Regions from separate parts of the Homo sapiens genome. Here regions 1 and 2 are each linked to region 3. The links come from fine-mapping of genetic effects on gene expression. A gene starts in region 3. Each other region holds a variant in brackets. All regions are shown on one strand. Distances are from middle to middle.

Region 1 (2,764 bases), 160 kb after region 3:
CGAGACTATCCTGGCTAACATGGTGAAGCCCCATCTCTACTAAAAATACAAAAAATTAGCCAGGCATGGAGGCGGGCGCCTGTAGTCCCAGCTACTCGGGAGGCTGAGGCAGGAGAACCTGGGAGGCGGAGCTTGCAGTGAGCTGAGATTGCACCACTGCACTCCAGCCTGGGTGACAGAGCGAGACTCTGTCTCAAAAAAAAAAAAAAAAAAAATGCTGTGTTCCTAACCCACTGAGAAGGATTAAGCTGGGTGGTTTTAGATGGACAGATAATATGGTCCAACTTTGAATTGAGAAGGGGTGAAGTGAAGGCAAAAGTATTTGAAGCCCCAACTCACGTCCTTTCCTCCTGTCTCTGAATTCATCTAAATCAGAATCTCCAGTCACTTTACACTGATGAACCAACCCCAGGCCTCCAGGTAACATTTCCAAGGGAAGCTGTGATGGGCTGAATTATGTCCTCCCAAAATTCATAGGTTAAAGCTGTAACCCCCAAAGTGACTGTATTTGTAAATGGGAACTGTCAGGAGGTAATTAAGGTTAAATGACATCCTAAGTGTGGGGTCCTAATCCAATAGGACTGGCGTCCTTATAAGAAGATAAAGAGATTACAGGAGTGAGCCACCCTGCCCAGCAGAGGCAGGCAGATCATGAGGTCAGGAGATCAAGACCATCCTGGCCAACATGGTGAAATTCTGTTGCCAAGACCAGCTTGGCTGGGGAGACCCTAACCCAGCGGCGCTAGAGGAATTAAAGACACACATGCCCTCTCCCTCTCCCTCTCCCTCTTGCTCTCCCCACGGTCTCCCTCTTGCTCTCCCCACAGTCTCCCTCTCCCTCTCTTTCCACAGTCTCCCTCTGATGCCGAGCCGAAACTGGACTGTACTGCTGCCATCTCGGCTCACTGCAACCTCCCTGCCTGATTCTCCTGCCTCAGCCTGCCCAGTGCCTGTGATTGCAGGCGCGCGCCGCCACGCCTGACTGGTTTTCGTATATTTTTTTTGGTGGAAACGGGGTTTCGCTGTGTTGGCCGGGCTGGTCTCCAGCTCCTAACCACGAGTGATCTGCCAGCCTCGGCCTCCCAAGGTGCCGGGATTGCAGATGGAGTCTCGTTCACTCAGTGCTCAATGTTGCCCAGGCTGGAGTGCAGTGGCTTGATCTCGGCTAGCTACAACCTCCACCTCCCAGCCGCCTGCCTTGGCCTCCCAAAGTGCCGAGATTGTAGCCTCTGCCCGGCCGCCACCCGGTCTGGGAAGTGAGCGTCTCTGCCTGGCCGCCCATCGTCTGGGATGTGAGGAGCCCCTCTGCCCGGCTGCCCAGCCTGGGAAGTGAGGAGTGCCTCTTCCTGGCCATCATGTCTAGGAAGTGAGGATCATCTCTGCCTGGCCGCCAATCGTCTGAGATGTGGGGAGTGCCTCTGCCCCGCCGCCCCATCTGGGATGTGAGGAGCGCCTCTGCCCGGCCGAGACCCCATCTGGGAGGTGAGGAGCGTCTCTGCCCGGCCGCCCCGTCTGAAGTGAGGAGCCCCTCTGCCCGACAGCCGCCCCATCTGAGAAGTGAGGAGCCCCTCCGCCCGGCAGCCGCCCCGTCTGAGAAGTGAGGAGCCCCTCTGCCCAGCAGCTGCCCCGTCTGGGAAGTGAGGAACGTCTCCATCCGGCAGCCGCCCTGTCTGGGAGGGAGGCGGGGGGCAGCCCCCGCCCGGCCAGCCGACCCGACCGGGAGGGAGGTGGGGGG[G/C]CAGCCCCCGCCCCGCCAGCCGCCCCGTCCGGGAGGGAGGTAGGGGGGCAGCCCCCGCCCGGCCAGCCGCTCCGTCCAGGAGGGAGGTGGGGGGCGCCTCTGCCCTGCCGCCCCTTCTGGGAAGTGAGGAGCCCCTCTGCCCGGCTGCCACCCCGTCTGGTAGGTGTACCCAACAGCTCATTGAGAACGGGCCATGATGACGATGACGGTCTTGTCGAATAGTAAAGGGGGAAATGTGGGGAAAAGATAGAGAAATCAGATTGTTGCTATGTCTGTGTAGTAAGAAGTAGACATGGGAGACGCCATTTTGTTCTGTACTAAGAAAAATTCTTCTGCCTTGGGATCCTGTTGATCTTTGACCTTACCCCCAACCCTGTGCTCTCTGAAACATGTGCTGTGTCCACTCAGGGTTAAATGGATTAAGGGCGGTGCAAGATGTGCTTTGTTAAACAGATGCTTGAAGGCAGCATGCTCGTTAAGAGTCATCACCACTCCCTAATCTCAAGTACCCAGGGACACAAACACTGCGGAAGGCCGCAGGGTCCTCTGCCTAGGAAAACCAGAGACCTTTGTTCACTTGTTTATCTGCTGACCTTCCCTCCACTATTGTCCTATGACCCTGCCAAATCCCCCTCTGCGAGAAACACCCAAATATGATCAATAAAAAAAAAAAAAAGGAAAAAAAGACACACATGCAGAAATATAGAGGTGTGAAGTGGGAAATGAGGGGTCTCACAGCCTTCAGAGCTGAAAGCCCCGAACAGAGATTTACCCACATATTTATTAACAGCAAGCCAGTCATTAGCATTGTTTCTATAGATATTCGATTAACTAAAAGTATCCCTTATGGGAAACGAAGGGGTGGGCCGAAATAAAGGGGTGGGTCTGGCTAGTTATTTGCAGCAGGAATATGCCCTTAAGGCAGAGATCGCTCATGCTACTGTTTGTGGTTTAAGAATGCCTTTAAGCGGTTTTCTGCCCTGGGCAGGCCAGGTGTTCCTTGCTCTCATTCCGGTAAACCCACAACCT
Region 2 (2,764 bases), 39 kb after region 3:
TATTATTAATAAGATAACCCTGGGAAACTAAGCCAGAAATTTTTTCATTTTATTCTTCATGGTCAGTCACAAGGCAGAAATCTGTTTAGACTGGCTAAAAAGTTAATACATGGCTAGAAACCTCCCTTTGTCACGTCCACACCCACTGGATTGAAAACCAAATAGCTCTTTCATTGATAAATGGTTATCACTGACCATATTCAATAGAGAATTCCTTCTTATTCATTTAAATCAAAGGAATGTACTTTTTTTTTTTTTCTTAGAGATGGGGTCTTGCTCTGTTGCCCATGCTGGATGGCAGGGGTGGAATTACAGCTCACTACAACCTGGAACCCCCTCGGCTCAAGTGATCTTCCCACCTGAGCCTCCAAAGTGCTAGGATTACAGGTGTGAGAGCCACGGTAACCAGCCAGAAATGCACTGTAATAGTAATGTGAACACCATAGAACAAATGATGCTATATACCATTCGCACCTTGCTGGAACTGCATAAGACACAAAAATGAATCGGACATGAAGCCTGTTTCTAAGACAAATATAGAAATACCTTATTACAAGACAGAAAGTGAGCCATGATATCAGAGCGATAAAGTGCTAAAGGAGATGTGAAGAGATGTGTTTCCTCATTTGCTCCATGATTTTCACATTTATGCAGGCTTGCCCACACAACCAACTCTGTACAGAAGGAACTATGCACCGTGAACTAGTCATTCTGAATTGACATTGAGATGTCTGGAAAAGACTGCTAGGGCCTTGGACCTTCCAGAAACCTGTGGTGTATTGTAATAACAATTTAATTTATTATAATAATTTACTGAGTCCCCACAATTGGGCTAAGCACTTTATATGCACTGCCTCATATCATCCATACAGCAATCCAGTTCTTTCTTAGTGTTAGAATCCTCTTTTTTCAAATGACAAAACCAAAGTGGCTGAGGTTAAGTCATATGAGTAGGATATTTAACCCCCAAATATCCCTTGACTATTCCCCTCCTGGAATCTGCCTTTCCAGACTCCAAGCAGTCTAACTTCCCCACAAAACTCATCTCGTGTCAGTACCGTGAGCCTGTGAAACTTCCTTAAAGTTTGTTAGACTAGCTAACCGCCTCCCCCCACCAAAAAAAACCTAATCCAAATTCAGAGTTTCGATAACTAAAACTAGCTTGATATATTACCTAGCTAACTTGGGGCATTTGTATTTCTACGAGAAGTTTCTAGGAATAGCACCCTGTTTTGGCATCTCAGGCTGAAGAGGTATTTGTGGGCCAGTATCTCCCTGAGCAAACCTCAGATCACACAATGTTGGCCTCTTGGGGAGAAGGATCCAGGGAGCTGTGTTTCTCTCTGCCTTAATTCTTGTGCTGAG[T/C]CATCCTACCACAGCAGAGGCTGTTGGGAGGGAAGAGCTTTGCAAACTTCAAGTGCAGAAACCATTTAAACAAGGAGGGAATACTCTCCCTCAGTAACACTACCCACTGGTAGTTACCCACCCTCCTATTTATATCTTCCATCCACTCATTCATTTATTCCATAGACTTAATAGTGTGGTGTAGGAGAAACAGCACAGACAAAAGGTAGACAGATCTGGGTTTGAAGCCCAGGGAAGACATGCCAGCTCCTGGGGATCTCCCAGCTGCCATCAGAATGACTCATCTAGAAAAGCATGAAGGAGCAACCATCCCATCTAGGCAGCTGGTGTGGATTCCCCACCATTCTCTCCATCCGTCCTACTTTCTTCTCCCAGTGTCTTTTGAAAATGTCTACTTCTACTTTTATTGTTTTCACTTTGCATCTGAACCTAATGTAAAATTTCACTATGAAAATGTGAAACTAGGATCTATACTTTCTTAGTTATACTTAAGTTATAATAAGAGAGGGTATTTTTCACCTTTTAAATCATGCTGCTTTAAATTGTATAAAGCTCAAGCTTATCCCTTCTTGATTAATTTTTCAGATTGTTTTCAAACTTTTCTCATATTTATTCATCTCAACAATTTTAGTAGTTCAGGGATGGAATGCGTTCTGTTCTACTTGTATTATCATTCTTAAAAGCAACCCAAAACTTGCAGAGTGAATCTCTCTTTCTTGGACAGCAAAAATCCTAATGCTGGGTCCAGAATCATGACAGCCACAGCTCCCCAATGCTGTCAATCCCTAGCATGTCTAATAGCCATCAAAGCTGTGGTAGGAGGCCCGGTGCAGTGGCTCACGACTGTAATCTCAGTACTTTGGGAGGCTGAGGCAGGCAGATCACTTGAGGCCAGGAGTTCGAGACCAGCCTGGCCAACATGGTGAAACCCTGTCTCTACTAAAAATACAAAAATTAGCCAGGCATGGTGGTATATGCCTATAATCCCAGCTACTTGGGTGGCTGAGGCATGAGAATCGCTTGAACCTGGGAAGTGGAGGTCTCAGTGAGCTGAGATCATACCACTGCACTCCAGCCTGGGTGACAAAGGAAGACTCCATCTCAAAGGAAAAAAAAAAAAAGAAGTGTGGTAGGAATGGTTCTCTGCTAAATTTCCATTATATATGCATTAAACATACTTAAGAAGAAGGTTTAAATTTATCTTACTTCTAGATCCAGGTGGTAGGTGTAATATTAGGTGTAATATTAATAGCAGCAGCAGTAGTAAGAGAATAGCAATAGTAATAATAGCAACTACCACTTACCTTGCTCTGATTATATGTCAAAGCTATTTATATATCACATCAGTTAATCCTCACAACAACCCCATGAAATGAGTACTATTATTGTTATTATTCCC
Region 3 (2,764 bases):
AGCCAGGCATGGTGGCATGCGCCTGTAGTCCCAGCTACTCGGGAGGCTGAGGCAGGAGAACCACTTGAACCCAGGAGGTGGAGGTTGCAGTGAGCTGAGATCGTGCCACTGCACTCCAGCCTGGGTGACAGAGCAAGACTCTGTCTAAAAAAAAAAAAAAAGTCTCATACTTAAATCCTGCGTCTGACAACCATATGAGTTTCTGGCAAGATTTAAACTTTCAAAGGCACAATTTTCTTATTGGCTAGATAAGAATAACAATTTTCACCTTGCCAGTTTGTAGTGAAGATTTCAGATAATGAATATAAAGGAACTGGTATAGACCATGGCCCATAGTAGGTGCTCAATAAATACCTTTATAAAGAAACAAACACATTGCAATTCTGATATGACGGCTGCCTTCTTATTTAGAAGACTATTCTGCTTGGTTTTTTTTTTTATTCTAATTTCTTTGGATTTATAAGCATCCCCCACAGCTCTTTCAAACCAAGGATCTTCACAGATAACAGTGTCTAGGGAATCTTTCTCTGTTCTCCTAAAACAAGCACTTATTTTTAATGATGGTCTTATATTCTATAAAAATATTAAAATAACATCTTCATATGTAGTATTATATATGAGGGAAAGAGACATTTGAGCCAGTGTTCACACTTGACCATGTTCACACTTTTAACCAGGTAGAGACTCGTGACTTTGACTCTTATTTTGGCCTTTACTCAGGCTCTGACTGCAGATAAGAATCAGTTTTGCCTAAATTTCAATTGCTTGGGAAAGGTCCTCGATAACGGAAGTCTACATAGAATTGTGAATAAATACCCCTGTGAAAATAAAGGTTAAGTCTATATGTTTACTTGATAAAGCAGATAATTTCAGAGTATAAACACAGTTGTGTTTTGACTTCTCTTCCTTTTGCCTTAAATATAGATATTTATTTGTGTGTGTGTGTATGTGTGTGTATTTATATATATATAAAGTTGCCCACTGTGATCCACCACTGCTGGAGCAAATCCAGAACTAGAACTTGGTCTCCTGGCCTTCAGCCCAGAGCTCATTACAGTCTCATTCTAAAAACAAGTACTTCATACTGATTGCATTTCTACACACACATATGCAGATTTCTGGACACTCTTTCTGTTTTTCTTTCATTTATGTTCTCAATGCTGAACCTTTATTAGAATTACATCATCACTGTGGTTCTTTAAATAAGAAACAAAACTCTGTCACAACATCTGAGGAAATTATCTTTTAATGTCCCCAAGCTCTATGCCTTGGAAAAAAAAAACTTCCTCTGCTGTTCAAGAATAACAGGCCCCAGAACAAGCCCCAAAAATAAATGACAAAGCCCATCTTACTCACAGGAGGAAAGGATCATGGTAGCCCCTTCTGCGGGGAGCACACAACAGTCTTCAGTTCTTCTGCGGTGCTCTACTCACAAAAACACATCTTTCAACTGAAATCATAGTTCGCTCAAGATGTTTCTCACGGGCAGAGTTAACCCCACCTATTTTCCTGTTCTGAAAACCTCAGAAGAGTATAAATGACAACCAATGGCATATATAAGAAAGCTCAGTAATCTCCATCCCAATCTCTGAGGGTATCTGCTATTAGTCTCTCATCCCCAAAGGTGTGGGTGACTCGCAAACATCATTTTCAAGAAATCACAAAATTTTGGTAAAAGGCACCTTTAAAATTATCAAATCAAACTGCCCTCTCTGGACTGGGAAGGAAATGAAGGCACAGACAGAATAAGGGACTTGCCCAAGGCCACACCGTGAGTGGCAGAAACAATTAGATTCTAGGCTCTGGAATATTGAGTTTAGAATGTTCCATCCTCCCACTCAGCAGACACTTTATTTGGGGGAAGTCAATCTAGTAATAACCCTAAAATGTGATTGGGGGATGGCTGAGAAATATAAAAACACCAACAATACAAAACACACTTGGGAGTTTCACTTCATCCCACTGGAAAGCATAACCATGTGTCAACTAATTAACAGAGCAACTTTAATGAAGACACAGCATATTCTAATCGCCCTTCCAATTTCCTGGTTTAGATTAAGGTCTCCTTAGCATTCTGGGTGATGACTGTTATTTTTACTTCACCTTTTGCCTTTGTTATGCTTTCGTATAAAACTTTTTTTCTAAGTCTTAGTGAAAAATATTTAAAGATTTTTGAAGGAAATGTTGACAAATGTTGCCAGGTGCTATCTATCTTGTTTTCCCATAAAAAGCATACACTGACCATTAGGACAGGGACTCTATCTTCTCCTCACTCTCTTTCATACCACCTAGTACTTCCCGTAGCTCCTCAAGGTGAAAAGGGAAGTATGGGATGGGAGGAGGGAAGGTCAGGAAGGAAGGAGAAAAGGCTGACAGTGATAGTAAGGTAGAGTGTGCCAGGACCGACTCCTTCAATGAGCTACAAGTCAGTTAAAAGTTGTGCATGGTTAGCAACCAAAATGCCCATCAATGATAGGCTGGATAAAGAAAATGTGGTACATATACACCGTGGAATATTATGCAGCTATACAGAATGAAATCATGTCCTTTGCAGGGACATGGATGGAACTGGAAGCCGTTATCCTTAGCAAAGTAATGCAGGAACAGAAAACCAAACACCACATGTTCTCACTTATAAGTGGGAACTGAACCATGAAACACATGGACACAGGGAGGGGAACAACACATACTGGGGCCTGTTGGGGAGGGCAGATGAGGGGAGAGCATCAGGAAAAATAGCTAATGCATGCCAGGCTAATATCAG

Alleles and levels. Positions count from the first base shown, and alleles are read on the strand shown. Sizes are in standard deviations (SD) of each study's normalised expression. Not every link is listed here.
For the expression in neutrophils of the gene that starts at base 1,452 in region 3, G is the high allele of the variant in region 1 and C is the other (large effect, 0.81 SD a copy in BLUEPRINT).

What was found. PIP is the estimated chance that this variant, and not a neighbour inherited with it, causes the effect.
Region 1: its variant is fine-mapped to the expression of TXK in neutrophils (BLUEPRINT, PIP 0.95).
Region 2: its variant is fine-mapped to the expression of TXK in monocytes (Quach 2016, PIP 0.95).

What each region holds. Positions count from the first base shown.
Region 1 is chr4:48,290,949-48,293,712 of GRCh38, forward strand. LOC105374445 (a long non-coding RNA gene) reads left to right here. Exons shown (of 2, transcript XR_007058111.1): 2 at 853-2,078. Among named protein-coding and RNA genes, the nearest start is that of TEC, 22 kb to the left of the region's middle. RefSeq lists an enhancer at 398-1,393. The variant G/C (reference allele first, on the strand shown) is at 1,736.
Region 2 is chr4:48,172,191-48,174,954 of GRCh38, forward strand. All of the region lies in intron 3 of TEC (tec protein tyrosine kinase), which reads right to left. Among named protein-coding and RNA genes, the nearest start is that of TXK, 39 kb to the left of the region's middle. The variant T/C (reference allele first, on the strand shown) is at 1,366.
Region 3 is chr4:48,132,799-48,135,562 of GRCh38, forward strand. TXK (TXK tyrosine kinase) reads right to left here and starts at 1,452. Exons shown (of 15, transcript NM_003328.3): 1 at 1,357-1,452. The coding sequence starts at 1,372. RefSeq lists a silencer at 894-1,188.